Regions from separate parts of the Homo sapiens genome. Here region 1 is linked to region 2. A link means that fine-mapping ties the variant in region 2 to the expression of a gene that starts in the linked region. Tissue or cell type: regulatory T cells. Region 2 holds a variant in brackets; the other region holds the start of a gene. All regions are shown on one strand. Distances are between the middles of the regions.

Region 1 (8,103 bases), 100 kb after region 2:
ACATATAACACAACTACACTTATACCCCGTATCTATAAAAATAAAAAATTAAATAAAATTTTTTTAAATCTTCAGAGAACATGTTATAGAGGTCCTTAGCGGTTTTCTGGGGTACTGACAATATTCTGTTTGTTTATATAAGTGGTGATTACATAGCTGTTCATTTTCTACAAAATTATTTAATCTATTTATTTACATTTTATGTCCTTTACTGTATTTACATTGCACAATGAAGGTTTTTAAAAAGCATAAATTTTAATGATATGCAGAGGTCAAAGAGATATTAAATAAAAAAGCAGGTTCTACAACAGTGTGTATAATACCAAGATTTTTCACCAAACAGATACATATCAAAATGTTAAGAGGCTGGTGATTTTCAACAAGAGCTAGAGTATTTCAGAGATATTTGAAGGACACAAAAGTGTTTCTAAAAAATGAAAAAAATAAGCTATGTTATGTGAAAATCTTTCCTTTCATATTTTTATATGAATGATTGAGAATTAACAGACTATTTGTGTAGCTACACACAGGATACATGTGTTCATTATTTGGATAGTTTTCTAATACTCATTGTCATGATCGACAAGTAGATATCATTTTAAATGCATAATGTACTTCCTGTAAGTCACTGTTAGTTTAGAAGTTTGCTTTTATTGTTGAATTTCTTTATTGAAATCATCTGTCACACTACCTTAACAATGTCAAAGTCATTTTTTAAGTGGTAGGAAGACATCCTGACATCTACTCTGTTGCCCTAAGGCTTTACTATTGTAATGGATCACATTTATGATGACATCATAATGTTATAAACAACTGTCACAAAAAGCAAGATCCACCATGTTTAATAGTCTACTATGTCCTTGTTATGAAAACTATATCACAGCAGTGGCCCAGTATTACAATTACACATTGAAAATATGTTGTACATAATTTATTTTGATAAGAAATAACTTAATAGGCCCACATTCTACTGCACAATCTTGGTCTTTATAAGTCACTAAGATGACTTTTAAAGGTTAAAAAGTCAAAAAAGTTTGTGATTAGAATCTGCTATTGATTTGACAAATGGTTTTGGGGGCATGACCCAGAAAAATTATTTCAGAAGAGAAGAATGCTCTCTTTTCTCATTTAGAGAATAAGAGGATGACACTTATTTCTGTATAATGACTCTAATTACATCCAGAATGTACAATCAGGTAGTAACATCAAATGTTCCCAGATTAATGTAGACATTGATTTAAATTAGAAACACAGTACCACAATGCTCTAACATCAGCAAAAATCATTACTTACAGTTTATGAAACTGACAGGAGCAAATGCCAATCAAGTAAATAGCCTATATTTAGATAACCTAGGTAATAGTTCAGTGGGGAGTTTTGAAAAAGAAATTATCATTTCAATGCCAAGTCAGGCTTACAGCTTTGAACAAGTAGCAAAACATGGACATGTTTCTCAAATGGATTTCACAGCATCAGTGCAAAAGCCGGAGGGGATGGCTTAGTTTTTTAAGCCTCAGAATTGAAATACCTAGACTCCCTGCAACTACAGCATTAAATCCTCTGTGGAACCACAGCTTCAAATGCTATCAGGAGGGACTCAACTCTTCATCCTTCTGAGACTGATAAATTGAAAGCCATGAAGTTTAGAGGAAATAAGAGAGCCTGCAGCGGTCTGAAACTCCTCCACCCACCTCCAACACACACACATACACAAACACAAACACACAAAGGCTCTATTTGCAACATCACTTAAGATTCCATTTGAGGCTTTCCCCTTGTTAAGACTTAAGGGTGTTGTTTTTAAGACATCCAGAAATCTCACAGTCCTGCCATGCACCATCTTTATAAGCATTCAAACCAAATTTCAGGCAGCTCCAAGTAAACTAAAAACATTATTTTTAATTCTCATTTAATATATTCAAGGAAATTCTAAGTGATTACTTTCAAATGCATTATAGGTATTGGGCCAACTCTTTATTCTTCCTGTGGAAATTTCTGTGTCTCAAATTGATCAAATTGATTTCTTTTTACTGCCTTGTATGTTTCTGGACTGCCTCCTTGACATCAATTATAGGTACTTGGGAATGGCAAATTAGAATAAGAGAATTTTATTTAATTTGCCTGGTATTACACCATTCTCCCACATCTCCTACCTCATTCACAAAGCTTTGTAAAATAAGAAAGAATACTATTATTATCTCCATTTTATAGATGAGAAAAGCATGGCTTAGGAAGCTTACATGAGTTAACCACAGCTGATACACAGTCACCTTTTTTTAATTTTTTTTTTAATAGAGACAGGAATCTCGCTATGTTGCCCAGGCTGGTCTCAAACTCTTGGGCTCAAGCCATCCACCCACCTCAGCCTCCCAAAGTGCCAGGATTATGGACATGAGCCACTAGGCCTGGCCACACCCTAAGTTTTAAAATCTAAGTCTGGAAAATCCTCCTGAAGTATTGCTAGTTATAAGTAAGCTCTACTTAGGAACAGAAACATTTTGCCAAACAAAATTGTGTAATGCATTCTAAATTTAAATAAAAATACTTTTACAAATAGTTCCTTTGATTTATCAGTAACACTAAATATCTCTGCCCTGTGTATAATGATTTAAAAGAATGAAAAATTGGAGAGGATGCTGGAAAAACTGAGGATCATTTATTTTACGGTCTACTACTGAAACAGGAAAAGTTCCCTTGTCGCCCTTGCAGGGCGTGTGATGGGGGTGTGGCTCGCTTCTTCAGTGTCCTGCTGCTCAAACCTCTATAGGGGCATACAGACGGGCAGATTGTGAGGCTCTGACCCCACAGCAGTGTCTAGGTGTGAATGTTTACAGCTGAAGCCCCAGTGGGCATGTGTTACAGGGTGCTCTTTTAGTTTAACCGTCTGTAGGCGGCTTGTGTTAGCTCAATTAGACCCCTGCCTTATCGCAAAGACAGAGGGCTTTCTGTATCCCGGGTTCTTACCTTGGTGTACGGGAAGAATTGGATCACACGTGGGCTTGAAGAATGAGTGGAAAGTTTTATTGAGTGGAAGTAGCTCTCGGCAGACGGGGGAACCAGAAGGGAGACGGTTTTCTCCTGGAGTCAGGTATGGCGGCCTGACTCTTCTCTGACCTCCCGCGACAAACTCTGCATTCTTCCGCTGGTCAATGGCCTGCCAGCATGCCGGTGTGCTCCTATGCTGGTGCGTTCCTTTCGACATCCAGCAGCCCCTGTATTCTCTGCCTATATGCTCCTCTCAATGTCCAGCTGCTTGTGCGTCTGCCTGCCAGGGTCTCGGGGGTTTTTAAAGGCACAGGATGAGGGCATGGCAGGCCAGGGTGGTCTTGGGAAATGCAACATCCGGGCAGGAAAACAAAAATGCCTGTCTTCACCTAGGTAGGCCCAGGCCCAGGGATGAAGCCCTAGCTGGGGACCACGCCCTCCTCTACCCAGCACTTCCCGCCCCCCTTCCTTATCATTTAAAGGGACCACGCCCTTCCCTTCCCAGCATTCCCTTCCCAGCACTTTCCTGCGGCATCACTACCTGTTAACAGGTGTTCCTTTTCGTTTAGATTTACCTCAAAACAACGGCGAAGGATCTAATTATATTTAGGCCCAAAAGAGCACCTAAGTGAGAGTAACAGAAGGTTACTTCTAGAACTAAAATGAAAATTATTCTTCAAGTGTTAGTCAAAGGAAAACTACTCCAGAAGGAACCAAATATCCAGACGAATTTAACTTAAGAAACAGCTACAATTTAGGCAAACTGGACAGTGGATCCAGTAGGTATTTTAGTAGCCACTAAGAAGACACTGAATCGGGTAGATTCTATAGGGATTGCATATTAGTTATTTAAATACAAATATCCGGCTGGGCACGGTGGCTCACACCTGTAATCCCAGCATTTTGGGAGGTCGGGGGGGTGGGGGCGGTGGGTGGATCACCTGTGTCAGGAGTTCAAGACCAACCTGGCCAAAATGGCAAAACCTGTCTCTACTTAAAATACAAAAATTAGCCGGGCATGGTAGTAGGCAGTAGCAATCCCAGCTACTCAGGAGGCTGGGGCAAGAGAATCGCTTGAATGCAGGAGGTGGAGGTTGCAGTGAGCTGAGATTACACCAGTGAACTCCAGCCTGGGCGATAGAGCAAGACTCCATCTCAAAAAATAAATACATACATACATACATACATACAAATATCCATGGAAAAGTTGATATATTGAGACCTTCTATCAGCCATTCCCACTATAGTGTAATTTAGCTGTTTCTCTGACAGGAATTTTTATTTAAGAAGAAAGAATTTGGAGAAATAGACATAGTAGGAGGTAACAGATCAGGCTCTTTCCACCAGAAGAAACACAAATACCTTAAAAAACAGGAAGAGGCTAGAGAGATCAGTGGGGTACTAAGACCAATTTTCCATGTATTGTATTTTACAATTTTTGCTAAAGGCATGTCCTAATTCCTTAAGGCTGCATAAAAATACTCAGCCCAGGAGCTAAGGAAAATTTACTCAGAGGACAATGTATGTTTTTCTGGCTTTCTTACCCTGTTTCACCCAAGTTTCCAGTTTCACCTGCCATTGGGTTATGATTACTCCAGCACAGATGACTTGTTCCTCTTCCAAACCCCATGAAAGGAACTTAGAAAATTTGTCTTTATTATATCTTTTAATTAACACTTCCCCAACGGGATAATGATACTTCTGGGCTATCTTATGTTCTTTAAATTATGTATTTAATTTCCTAGCAATCAATAAGAGCCTTGAAGGTTTTGTAAGTCTCACAACTCCTACCTAGTTTATATTTTTACATTTATTTATTTATTTATTTTTGAGACAGAATCTCACTCTGTTGTCCAGGCTGGAGTGAAGTGGTGCGATCTCGGCTCACCACAATCTCCACCTCCCGGCTTCAAGCAATTCTGCCTCAGCCTCCCAAGTAGTTGGGACTACAGGCATGCACCACCACGCCCGGCTAATTTTTGTATTTTTAGTAGAGACGGGTTTCACTATGTTGGCCAGGCTGGTCTCGAACTCCTGACCTCGTGATCCACCCACCTCAGCATCCCAAAGTGTTGGGATTACAGGCGTGAGCCATCGTGCCCAGCCTAGTTCATATTTTTAAAGTTTGTATAGATTTATAGATGCTTTTAAAAATTATGTGATTATGTGTCTTGCCTTGGCAACCTGGGCAGGCATTCCAGACACCCAAAGGGATTATTAGTTCATGTTCGCACGTCTGCCCAGCAACAAAACTGAGCAGCCTCCACCAAGCACGTAAAATCCCCATTCCTCCTCTTATTCATTTATTTAGCACTTAATAGTGCCAGGCAGGAAGGTAAAAATACATTTAAAAAGGAATGGAGGTAGCCGTCTTGCCCTGGAGGTGCAGGAAGCTGCACTTCAGTGTGCTAGGTAGAGGGTACATAGGCCGTTTCTGTTTTTCTTCCAGCTCAGGGATTTATAATGAGAGGAAGTGCTACAAAAAGCTGTGGTGCGAAAATGACGGACGCTATGAATGGAAAAAAAATCTAAAATCAATCCGGTCCTAAGCAAACACGCTTCACCTACACTCATAACTATTGCAGACCTCCGAGGCCTGGGATCCCCAAGAATATACTGAGTTTGACAAACTTTTCAACTTCAACTTTAAATTAAAAAGACAGTAAAAGAACCAAATCCATAGTACACAGCAATCGGCTAAAGTTCCTGGGGCCCTGCAACCCAGAGTTGAATAATTTTGTATTAAATTCCCAATATCAAGCTAAATCTATTTTAACCACAGGAAAAGCAGCAACTTGTCTGGCTATTTTAAAAATCTGAACAGCACTTAGGAAGAAGCACCTTAGCGCAGGGAACAGCTCAGTGCCCCGTGACACAACTCTCCCGCGGGCCCAGGGACGCCTCGTCTCGCGAGAGTTGAGGGACGCCTGAGCGAACCCCCGAGAGAGCGGGCGTGGGCGCCAGGCGGGCGGGGCACTGGGGATTAATTGTTCGGCGATCGCTGGCTGCCGGGACTTTTCTCGCGCTGGTCTCTTCGGTGGTCAGGGATGGCGCGGAAGTCGAACTTGCCTGTGCTTCTCGTGCCGTTTCTGCTCTGCCAGGCCCTAGTGCGCTGCTCCAGCCCTCTGCCCCTGGTCGTCAACACTTGGCCCTTTAAGAATGCAACCGAAGCAGGTGCGGGTTGGCGGCCTGGGCGGGCGGCTGCGCCGCGAGAGCTTGCGGGTGGGGATGACTAGCCCGCCCCGCTGCAGTCACCCGGCAGGGCGGACGGAAGAGCGCCGGGCTGGGCCGGGCCTCGCGGTCCCGCCCTCTAGGTCTTCCCGAGTCTCCAGCGCCGCTCAGTCTCTTGCAAGTGGCCTTTACTGCATCCTCCCCACCTACCGCTGTTGCATTTTAGGTCCTCCCTTCATGCAGCCCCCAGCGCAATGTATTTTCCACCCTGCTGCTGACCATAGTTATGGCCTTTGTGCTTTAATCAAGTAGCAGCTACGCTTTTCTGCCTGACAGTCTTTTCACGGGCTGTGTACGTCTCCACCTCTCGTTTCTAATCCTTCACTTCTTTGCAATTTTGTAGACGACTAATAGTGTCCCAGCCATAGCCTACTCTTTTCCCATTTACTTTTTTTGCCACGTGTTGTCATACTTTACCTGCCACTTAGAATTCAAGGTTCCAACCTTTGCTGTACATTCACACTATCTGGGGAGCTTCTCAAAAATCATCCTGCCGGGGCCCACCTCCTGTGACTGTGATCTAACTGCTGGAATCAGGGCCACTGTTTTTCTTTAAAAAGCTCCCTAGGTGATTTCGATTTGCAGACAGGGTTGAGAACCACTAAGCTAAGGTATCACCTCTTCCAGGAAGCGTTCCCTGACTTAACTGCCCTCGTGTCCAGAATGAGTTAGGTTCCTGCCTTCTACACCTTGTTAATAGCCTTTACGTACCATTATCTTGGCATTTTCGCATTGTACTATGCTTGTTTCTTTCATTTGCTTAATGACCAGAAGAGTCATTTTCAGACCCCTCCTCCTCCATCTGAGGTTGCTAACGTATTAACTTTCTAGGGCAGAATTGGCTCCAGAATTTGGTGGCAGTGCATACGATTCAGAGAAAATGAAGAAGCAGGCTGTGAGAAAGATATTCCCAGCCATAATGAGACGAAAAGAAATTGCATCAGCCTGGGCGGGGGACAGTTCTGTGTTTAAGTTGCCTGTATTGAAAGAGGGAACTTGCGTAAATACACTTTCAAGCCTGTAGGTGCTGTAGTGTTTACCAACCAGAGCACCCACTCTTCAAGGAATTCTGTTGTTACCAGAAAAGAAATTGTCCATCAAAGACCCTTCCCCCCACACCCCCAAATGTATGGGATCCTGGCTCTGCTACTTACCAGCTGTGTGACCTTAAACTAACTGCCTGACCTGTGGCTCTGTTTACTTTTCTTTAAAATGAGGGTCGTGATTGTACAGTACCTACCACAGAAGCTGTTATGAAGACTCAATGAACTAATCCATATGAAGTCCACGTTGTAATTGTTTGCTGTTCAGTATTATTAAGACTTCCTGGGATAGGTGTTACCTCAATACACATATCAATTATGCATATTTTAATCTAATGATGCAGAAGAAATGTGTGAAGAAGGCTGCGGTTTAGTGGATTTTTTATTTAACTGCCTTTTAGTGGTTTCGATTGTACCTTTTAAAATAAAGGAGGGGATACTGATTTCGTTTCTCGCACACAGAAGAGATAGATATTAGTAAGTGAAAAAAAAAAAAACCTTCAGCTTGCACCAATAGCCAGTTTTTTGAGTTCTTCTGATAACTAGTTAAATAATTTTGACTCTTCACTGACTCCTTTGTAACACTTGATAAACTAATGTGTTAAAAAATCAGCTTAACTCAGTAAATGTGAAAAAGTTGTTAAATTGGAGTTGGTTTGTTGCATTTGGCATTGAAAAAAAAATATATATATAAACAAGCATTATTGGGATTTGATTAACAGCGTGGAGGGCATTAGCATCTGGAGGCTCTGCCCTGGATGCAGTGGAGAGCGGCTGTGCCATGTGTGAGAGAGAGCAGTGTGACGGCTCTGTAGGCTTTGGAGGAAGTCCTGATGAACTTGGA
Region 2 (8,112 bases):
ACTGCAAGCTCCGCCTCCCAGGTTCACGCCATTCTCCTGCCTCAGCCTCCCGAGTAGCTGGGACTACAGGCGCCCGCCACCACGCCCGGCTAATTTTTTGTATTTTTAGTAGAGACGGGGTTTCACCGTGTTAGCCAAGATGGTCTCGATCTCCTGACCTTGTGATCCGCCCGCCTCGGCCTCCCAAAGTGCTGGGATTACAGGCGTGAGCCACCGCGCCCAGCCTGTAGGGTTGGTTTCTATGGCCTCCCTCCTTGGCTTGTACATAGGTGTCTTTTCCCTGTATCTTTATATGGTCCTTTCTCTGTATGTGCCTGTCTTCTAACCTCCTCTTCTTATAAGGACACCAGTCCCACACTAATGACTTCACTTAACCTTTATTACCTCCTCAAATACCCTATCTCAAAATACAGTCACATTCTGAGATACTGGGGGTTAGGATTTCAACCTATCAACTTGGGAAGGACATAGTTCAGACCATAACAAACTTTTTGTTAATTTTCTTGGGAATTTATGCAGGTCAAGAAACTGAGCAAAAGTGCTGCAGAGGTTGGATCCTCGGAACATACTACAATTAACACAGAAGTAATAAGTAATTACTGCAATACTTATTAAACATTCACCCTGTGCACAGTTCTGTATGCAATGCTCATGGAAGGATTATGAATGTTAGTACATATTAATGTTGCTGCTGTTTGAGACTGTTCAGGTGTGTTGCACTCTATGAGAAATGTGAAGAAACATAACAACCCCAACCTCTAGGTAATTAAAATCTTGTTGGAAAGAAAAGGGAAAGATATGTGTAACCGCACAAAGCAATGCTACAAGAGATGCTAATGATGGTTTATAATTACAAATAGGTAAAGGAAAGGAAGACCAAGTCTAAACTCAGAAGAGAATAGAAGAGATCTAAAGCAGATATCATGGACTGGGAAGGATTTGGGAGGGTACTAAACTTGACTTGGGCCTTCGGGTTGGAGACTGAAGGGACAAAGAGAAAAGGAGGCATTTCAGGAAAGTTAATCCCAAAGGACTGATCAAAGCGTAGTGAGGAGAAAAGTTTTACTAACATTAAGGATTCCACAGGAAAGTGATAGAAGTTGGGTACAAAAGTAGATTGGAGAGACTATGTACATTATCTATAGCCAGACAGCCTTGTAAGGTGAGTATTCATACAGTAGTGAAACTATAGATGAGAAAAGTGGGGCCAAAAAGCTGAGCTAGTTATCAACAGGTGCAATGTAATAAGTAGGTAACAAATAGCAGAGCTGAGATTTAGGAGACTTGTGCCTTTGAACGTCAATGAATCTAAAGCAAAATTTATTAGGACAAATACAACCTTGATACAGCTTCACGTTTTTTTCCTCCCTAACCAAAAACAAAATGTAATAGAAAAACAAGTCTATTTTTACTCTTTTATTATACAAAGACTCCATTATTAACTTACAGCTGAAGTGGTATGAAAGGTCTTTAAGAGAACAGGTACTAAACATTGTTTCCAGGCTCAGCCTTAACTGGAATAGGAATGCAGTAGGATTTCTTGGACGTCAAGAGGCCTATATTTGCTTCCCCAAAAAGCCTTTTTCAAATGCTTGTGATTAGGAAACAATGCCTTCCACACACCCGCTCTCTCTGTTCAGGTGTCTGCCTCTTTCATTCCTACCTTAAGGCATTAAATGTGCTTCTCATTGTCAGATGGGGACCCAGTTATTTCTTTTTTTTCATTTATTTATTTTTTTGAGACGGAGTCTTGCTCTGTCGCCCAGGCTGGAGTGCAGTGGCGCGATCTCGGCTCACTGCAAGCTCTGCCTCCCGGGTTCACGCCATTCTCCTGACTCAGCCTCTCGAGTAGCTGGGACTACAGGTGCCCGCCACCATGCCCGGCTATTTTTTTTGTATTTTTAGTAGCGACGGGGTTTCACCATGTTAGCCAGGATGGTCTCAATCTCCTGACCTCATAATCAGCCTGCCTTGGCCTCCCAAAGTGCTGGGATTATAGGCATGAGCCACCGCACCCGGCCATATCTCTTGAGTACTTATGTAATCAATAAATGAACAAAGCAACTATGTAAAACAGTTACTAAAGCATTTCAAAATTAGCCACTCTAAACAAACCCAGAAGCCTAAATTACTGACACATTCACCAGCTGGAAAGACTGTGGACTTTGAAGTCACATATAAGAAATTCAACTTCAGTTCTTTTTTTTATTTTGAGAAGGACTCTCGCTCTGTTGCCCAGGCTGGAGTGCAGTGGCACCTCCCGAGTAGCTGGGATTACAGGCACGTGCCACCCTACCCAGCTAAATTTTGTATTTTTAATAGAGATGGGATTTCACCATGTTGGCCAGGATGGTCTTGGTCTGCTGACCTCCTGATCTGCCCACCTCGGCCTCTCAAAGTGCTGGGATTACAGGTGTGAGCCACTGTGCCCGCCCTCAACTTCAGTTCTTATATGTTTGACCACAGAAATGTAACTTAACCTTTCTAAGTCACAGTTTTCTAGCCTGAAAATGGGAGTAATAATTAACTCACTGAGTTATCATGAATATCAAATAATATGTACAGTTAAGCACAGTAATTGATATACAGCAGATGCTTAGGAAATATTAATTCCCTTCCCCTTCTCCATTCTTGTGAGCTCTCTTTGATAGGAAAAAAAGATACAAATAACAGGATGCAAATTACAAATATACCAGGCATCTGAAAGAATGAGAATAGAACCTACAAAGATCTCACAAAGGAGGAGGGCAGTGGTGTACTGGCAGCTAGACTGAAAAAAAAAAAAAAGCCCTCATTTGTACTTGTGATAGTGGAAAAACTCAAACTGTTTTTCCTCTGTTCTATCACCACAAGCAACACAGAAGACTTCTGTGACCAAATGTGTGGGGTTTCTCCCCACACACTAAGCAAGCAATCAGCTCTGCAGCAGACACCAGCTGGGTGCCCTCCAATTCAATTCAATTCAGCCACTATCTGGAGACAGCCTCAGATCCCACAAGTTGGGGGCTCAGTCACACAAAACCACCCCCTCCTTCCCATCAGCATACCCCAGCCTCTAGAATTTCTAATGCACTGGCTTCAAATTGGGACTCTCAGAGCCCCCTCTTTGGGTTCAATTAATTTTCTAGAGCGGCTCATAGAACTCAAGAAAACATTTATGATGTTTAGCAGTTTATGCCAAAGGATATTTTAGAGGATACACATAAACCGCCAGATGAAGAGATACACAAGGCAAGGTCTGGAAGGGTCTCAAGCACAGGAGCTTCTGTCCCTTTGGAGTTGGGGTGCACCACTTCCCAGCACATAGATGAATTCTTGTTCACCTTCCTCTCAGCTTCCACATATTCAGCTATCCAGAAGTTCTCTTGCACCCTGTCCTCTTGGGCCTTTAATGGAGACTTCACTGCATAGACAGAATTGACCACCAGGGAGAAGTATGATTGGACAAAAAGGGTATTCTCTAACACTAATAGGCTGAACAGAAACCCAGCAAGGCTTGTCCAGATTCTTTTTGGCTTCTCTGTGCTGTATTCCTTTTTCCAGGCTAAGGGCCAGGACCCCTTCTGAAATGAGGATCTTATAACCCACAATCAGAATGGTGAAAGAAGATTAGAGTCCTGTCTCGGGCTGCTGACAGGAGAATAGGAGAAGGTCAGAGAGAGAGTTTCTGTTTTTTGAGACCTAAAGAGCCACAGCATTATAAAAACTGTTACAAAGGCTACGGGAGTTATGAGCCAGGAACAATGGATGAAAACCTATATGTGTGTGTGCCCCTGTGTGTATACAGATGACATATTTACAATATGTATACATATTCAGTATTTATGGAATCAATAAATGAACAAAGCAACTATGTTACTAAAGCACTTCAAAATTATACGTACACATATTACACATATTTATATAAAACTGGCCCAATTTTCCCATAGAACTGATATTTATGGGGTTTTTTCAATAAACATAGAGATTGATCCTCCTGATCTTGAAACTTGAAACTTAACATTTGTCTCCTCTGGGTTCCTTCCTCAGGAAACCAAACCTCAGGCAAGGGACTCACCAGATCCTGGCACCCAGACAAGGAGAAGCCAGAGCCCCCATCAATCGTGATTGCTTCCTCACCCTTCCCTAATTCCTCTAATTCCTGTTTCCCACATGTAGTTATATTTCCCCCCCACTATGTCAACACACCAATTTTAATCAATTTGGAGAGATGGATTTGAGGTTTGGCTCTCATCCCTCTGGTTGACTTCACCCAAATAAAAAGTCTTCTTCCCTGGCAGTTCTGTGCAGCGAGCCACTGAAAATAGAACAGATACACACACACACACACACACACACACACACACACA[C/TACACACAC]ACATATATAATATACACATTTAATAGCACATATATACACACACATATATAATATACACATTTAATAGCATATATATACAAATTTAATAGCATATATATCACATTTTACATATATACACATTTAATAGCATATATATATATATATATATCAATCATACTGTCAGTAATGTTTGCCAATTTCTGTGATGTAGATGCACCCTGTGATGGCTAATTTCAAGCTATATAACAATCTATAAACTATAACATATAAACTATAAACTATAACAATCAGCCATCAAACTTCTGAAATATTTAACAATCTGCTTTTACTTTCACTAGGTGGCTCCACACCAGAGGAAACTTACAACTGTGATTTTCATCACTGGTATTGTGCTTGTTGGTACCTGTTTCCTGTCTTGTCTTCAAAGCATAAGGGTAGGGAATGGTTAGGCTGAAATTCAGAATAAACCAAAGTAAATGTTGACAGAAGAAAATTCCTCAAGGATCTAGAACCAGAAATACCATTTGATCCAGCAATCCCATTACTGGGTATATACCCAAAGGATTATAAATCATTCTACTATAAAGACACATGCACATGTATGTTTATTGCAGCACTATTCACAATAGCAAAGACATAGAACCAACCCAAATGCTCATCAATGATAGACTGGATAAAGAAAATGTGGCACATATACACCATGGAATACTATGCAGCCATAAAAAAGCATGAGTTCATGTCCTTTGGAGGGACGTGGATGAAGCTGGAAACCATCATTCTCAGCAAACTAACAGAGGAACAGAAAACCAAACACCACATGTTCCCAATCATAAGTAGGAGTTGAACAATGAGAACACATGGACTCAGGGAGGGGAACATCACACACTGGGGCCTGTCAGGGGGTGGGGGGCTAGGGGAGGAATAGCATTAGGACAAATACCTAATACCTAATGCATGCGAGGCTTAAAACCTAGATGACAGGTTGATAGGTGCAGCAAACCACCACGGCACATGTATACCTATGTAACAAACCCGCACATTCTGCACATGTATCCCAGAACTTAAAGTATAATAAATAATGAAAAAAAGAAAATATTAGTAGCTGAGCATATAAAATGCATATAGATAAATGAAGAAATAAGTATAACAAAATATTTAGTTAATTACAAAGTCCCCAAGTTATATCTTTAGTACCACCAACGGTGTTTGGCACACAGTATTGCTGTCTCTATATACTGATTAAATTATTGATTAAATATTTTCCTTTTATTGCAATTGAACTCAGAGTAAATGCTGTATTGTGCTTTCAGGTAAGTAGAAATTTCCATTTTAACTGCCATAGTAGTAATTTGTGGACACTCAGTATATCAACTCGAAAATTAGGATAATAATACCTCTTTCATAGGGTTGTGTAACTTTTTAGGCCGAGAGCCTCCTCGCGATGTTGGATGGTAAAGTATCTCAGTATAGAAATTTGGAAGCTAAATTGCCTGACTTTAAATCTTGATTCTTCCATATACTACCTGTGTATAATCGCCTAGTGACTTATTCTCTGTGTGTCTCAGTTTTCTCATCTTTAAAATAACAATCATTATACCAACTTACAAGGTTGATATGAGGATTATGTAATTTATGTGAAATTCTTAGCACAATATTCGGCTAATAATTAAGCTAATAATGAATGTTACCGATTATAATTTGTACAATACAACCAAGAAATGTTTTGTTTCCCTGCCCATCTCTACCTGTTCTTACTTCTGTTTGTTTTCTTTTTTTTTTTTTTTTGAGACAGAGTCTCGCTCTGTCACCCAGGCTAGAATGCAATGGCAGGATGTCAGCTCACTGCAACCTCCGCCTCCTAGGTTCAAGTGTTTCTCCTGCCTCAGCCTCCTGAGTAGCTGGGATTACAGATGCCCGCCACCACGCCCAGCTAATTTTTGTATTTTTAGTAGAGATGGGGTTTCACCATGTTGGTCAGGCAGGTCTTGAACTCCTGACCTCAGGTGATCTGCCTGCCTCGGCCTCCCAAAGTGCTGGGATTACAGGCATGAGCCACCACGCCCAGCCTACCTCTGTTTGTTTTCATGGCCTTCAGGTCTCTTTATAACTTAGCCCTATTCTCCACATTAGCCCCTATCCTGCTTCACTTCAACATACACTGACAGCTGTACTCACAGAGTGGCCTCACCTCAGAGCCTCACACATTCAATCCCAGCTTTTAGGTTTGCCAAAAATATCTTTCCTACTTTCTTCCAGTCATTTAAATCTGATCTAACCTTGCTAGTTCAAATTTTCATTCCCGCTTTCATAGCTCTCTTCTTAACTTCTATAGCAAATACACTTATGCCATATAATCAATCATTTAATTAGAAATTCCCTTGTATTTTTCTTTCTGCTTTCGAAAGGGAATTATGTTATCTTCCGCAACTCTGGAATTGTGCAGAAAACACAGAATTACCCCCAATAAATGTGCATTGATCGATTTATTTACTATTTAGAATTAACTTTGACTTTAGTTATTATATCAATAGAGCTTTTATCAAAAGAACTTTTCTCTTTAACTGACACTACTTGCATTAAAATGCCAATCATGTAGGAGAATATGGTTAAGTGATAATGTTTAATTGCTTAAAATTATTACATCATTTACTATAATAGTATGCCATTTGAACTAGATATTTTTAAGGTTTGATTTCTTAAGTCTATATCATGGTATCAAATTTATATAATGAAAAAAGTTTATTTTAGTATTTGGTTGGTGCAAAAGTAATTGTGGTTTTTGCCACTAAAAGCAATGGCAAAAACCACAATTACATTTGCAGCAACCATAGTACTGAAAATTTTACATACCTAAAACGCAGCTAAAATACACCACATTGGCTCTGATTTAAATTGCAACACAAAAAGGAACAAAGAAATATCCTTAACCGTATGTAATGTGTAGATTTCTTTCACACTGATGATGAATGGAGCGTAGTTGCCCAGGCCTCTAAAGTAGTCAGAATATCATGCGGGATATCCTGAGATAGCAGAAAAAACACTTAAGAAGTAGTAATGTGCTCCCAAAGAGCTCAGCCCTGCTCTTAAAAGTAAACTAGTGCTGATGCCGGGGTACCAGGGGAAATCTACTACTGCACTGTGGGCGCATGTGCCATTGCTATGTGAGACACATAGTAATGTCTGTCCATTTATTCACACTCTAAAATTTATTTGTAAATAGTTTTTAACTCTACTTAATCCCACAAGATTAGTCTTCTGTCTGCATTTGCCATACCAAAGAAATTTTGGCGGCTGTAAAATTAAGGCTATCTAGACCAGCAAATGTCACATGTGAGAAAAGCTGAACATTTTAACATTTAAAAGGCTAAACTAAGATCCATCAGGTCTCCTCAACCAATGATTCCTGAATTAGTTATCTGGGATACAGGGTTTTGGTTGTTTTTCTTTTTTAATTTCTTTCTGAAACATAAATACTGTATGTCTTATTTATCCAATCTTACTTATCCAGGAAAGCCACTGACATAAAGTAGGCACTTAAGAAACATTTGTTTCTCTATGACCTGGACCTTTTTTTTTTTTTTGACAGTCTCACTCTGTTGCCCAGGCTGGAGTGCAGTGGTGAGATCTCAGCTCACTGCAACCTTCACCTCCTGCTTCAAGCGATTCTCCTGCCTCAGCCTCCCGAGTAGCTGGGATTACAGGCATGTGCCACCACACTGGCTAATTTTTGTATTTTTAGTAGAGACGGGGCTTCACCATGTTGGTCAGGCTGGCCTCGAACTC

Direction of the effects. Positions count from the first base shown, and alleles are read on the strand shown. Sizes are in standard deviations (SD) of each study's normalised expression.
As copies of TACACACAC replace C in region 2, the expression in regulatory T cells of the gene that starts at base 3,398 in region 1 goes up (large effect, 1.0 SD a copy in Bossini-Castillo 2019).

The links. PIP is the estimated chance that this variant, and not a neighbour inherited with it, causes the effect.
Region 1: AGA-DT starts here. The variant in region 2 is fine-mapped to the expression of AGA-DT in regulatory T cells (Bossini-Castillo 2019, PIP 0.92).

Annotation. Positions count from the first base shown.
Region 1 is chr4:177,440,305-177,448,407 of GRCh38, reverse strand. It overlaps AGA-DT (AGA divergent transcript), which reads right to left and starts at 3,398. Exons shown (of 4, transcript NR_183779.1): 1 at 2,965-3,398. It overlaps AGA (aspartylglucosaminidase), which reads left to right and starts at 5,971. Exons shown (of 9, transcript NM_000027.4): 1 at 5,971-6,159; 2 at 7,982-8,103. The coding sequence starts at 6,033. RefSeq lists enhancers at 5,306-5,385, 5,476-6,019, 6,846-6,925.
Region 2 is chr4:177,543,527-177,551,638 of GRCh38, reverse strand. The region is part of intron 1 of AGA-DT (AGA divergent transcript); the gene reads right to left. Among named protein-coding and RNA genes, the nearest start is that of AGA-DT, 100 kb to the right of the region's middle. The variant C/TACACACAC (reference allele first, on the strand shown) is at 4,350.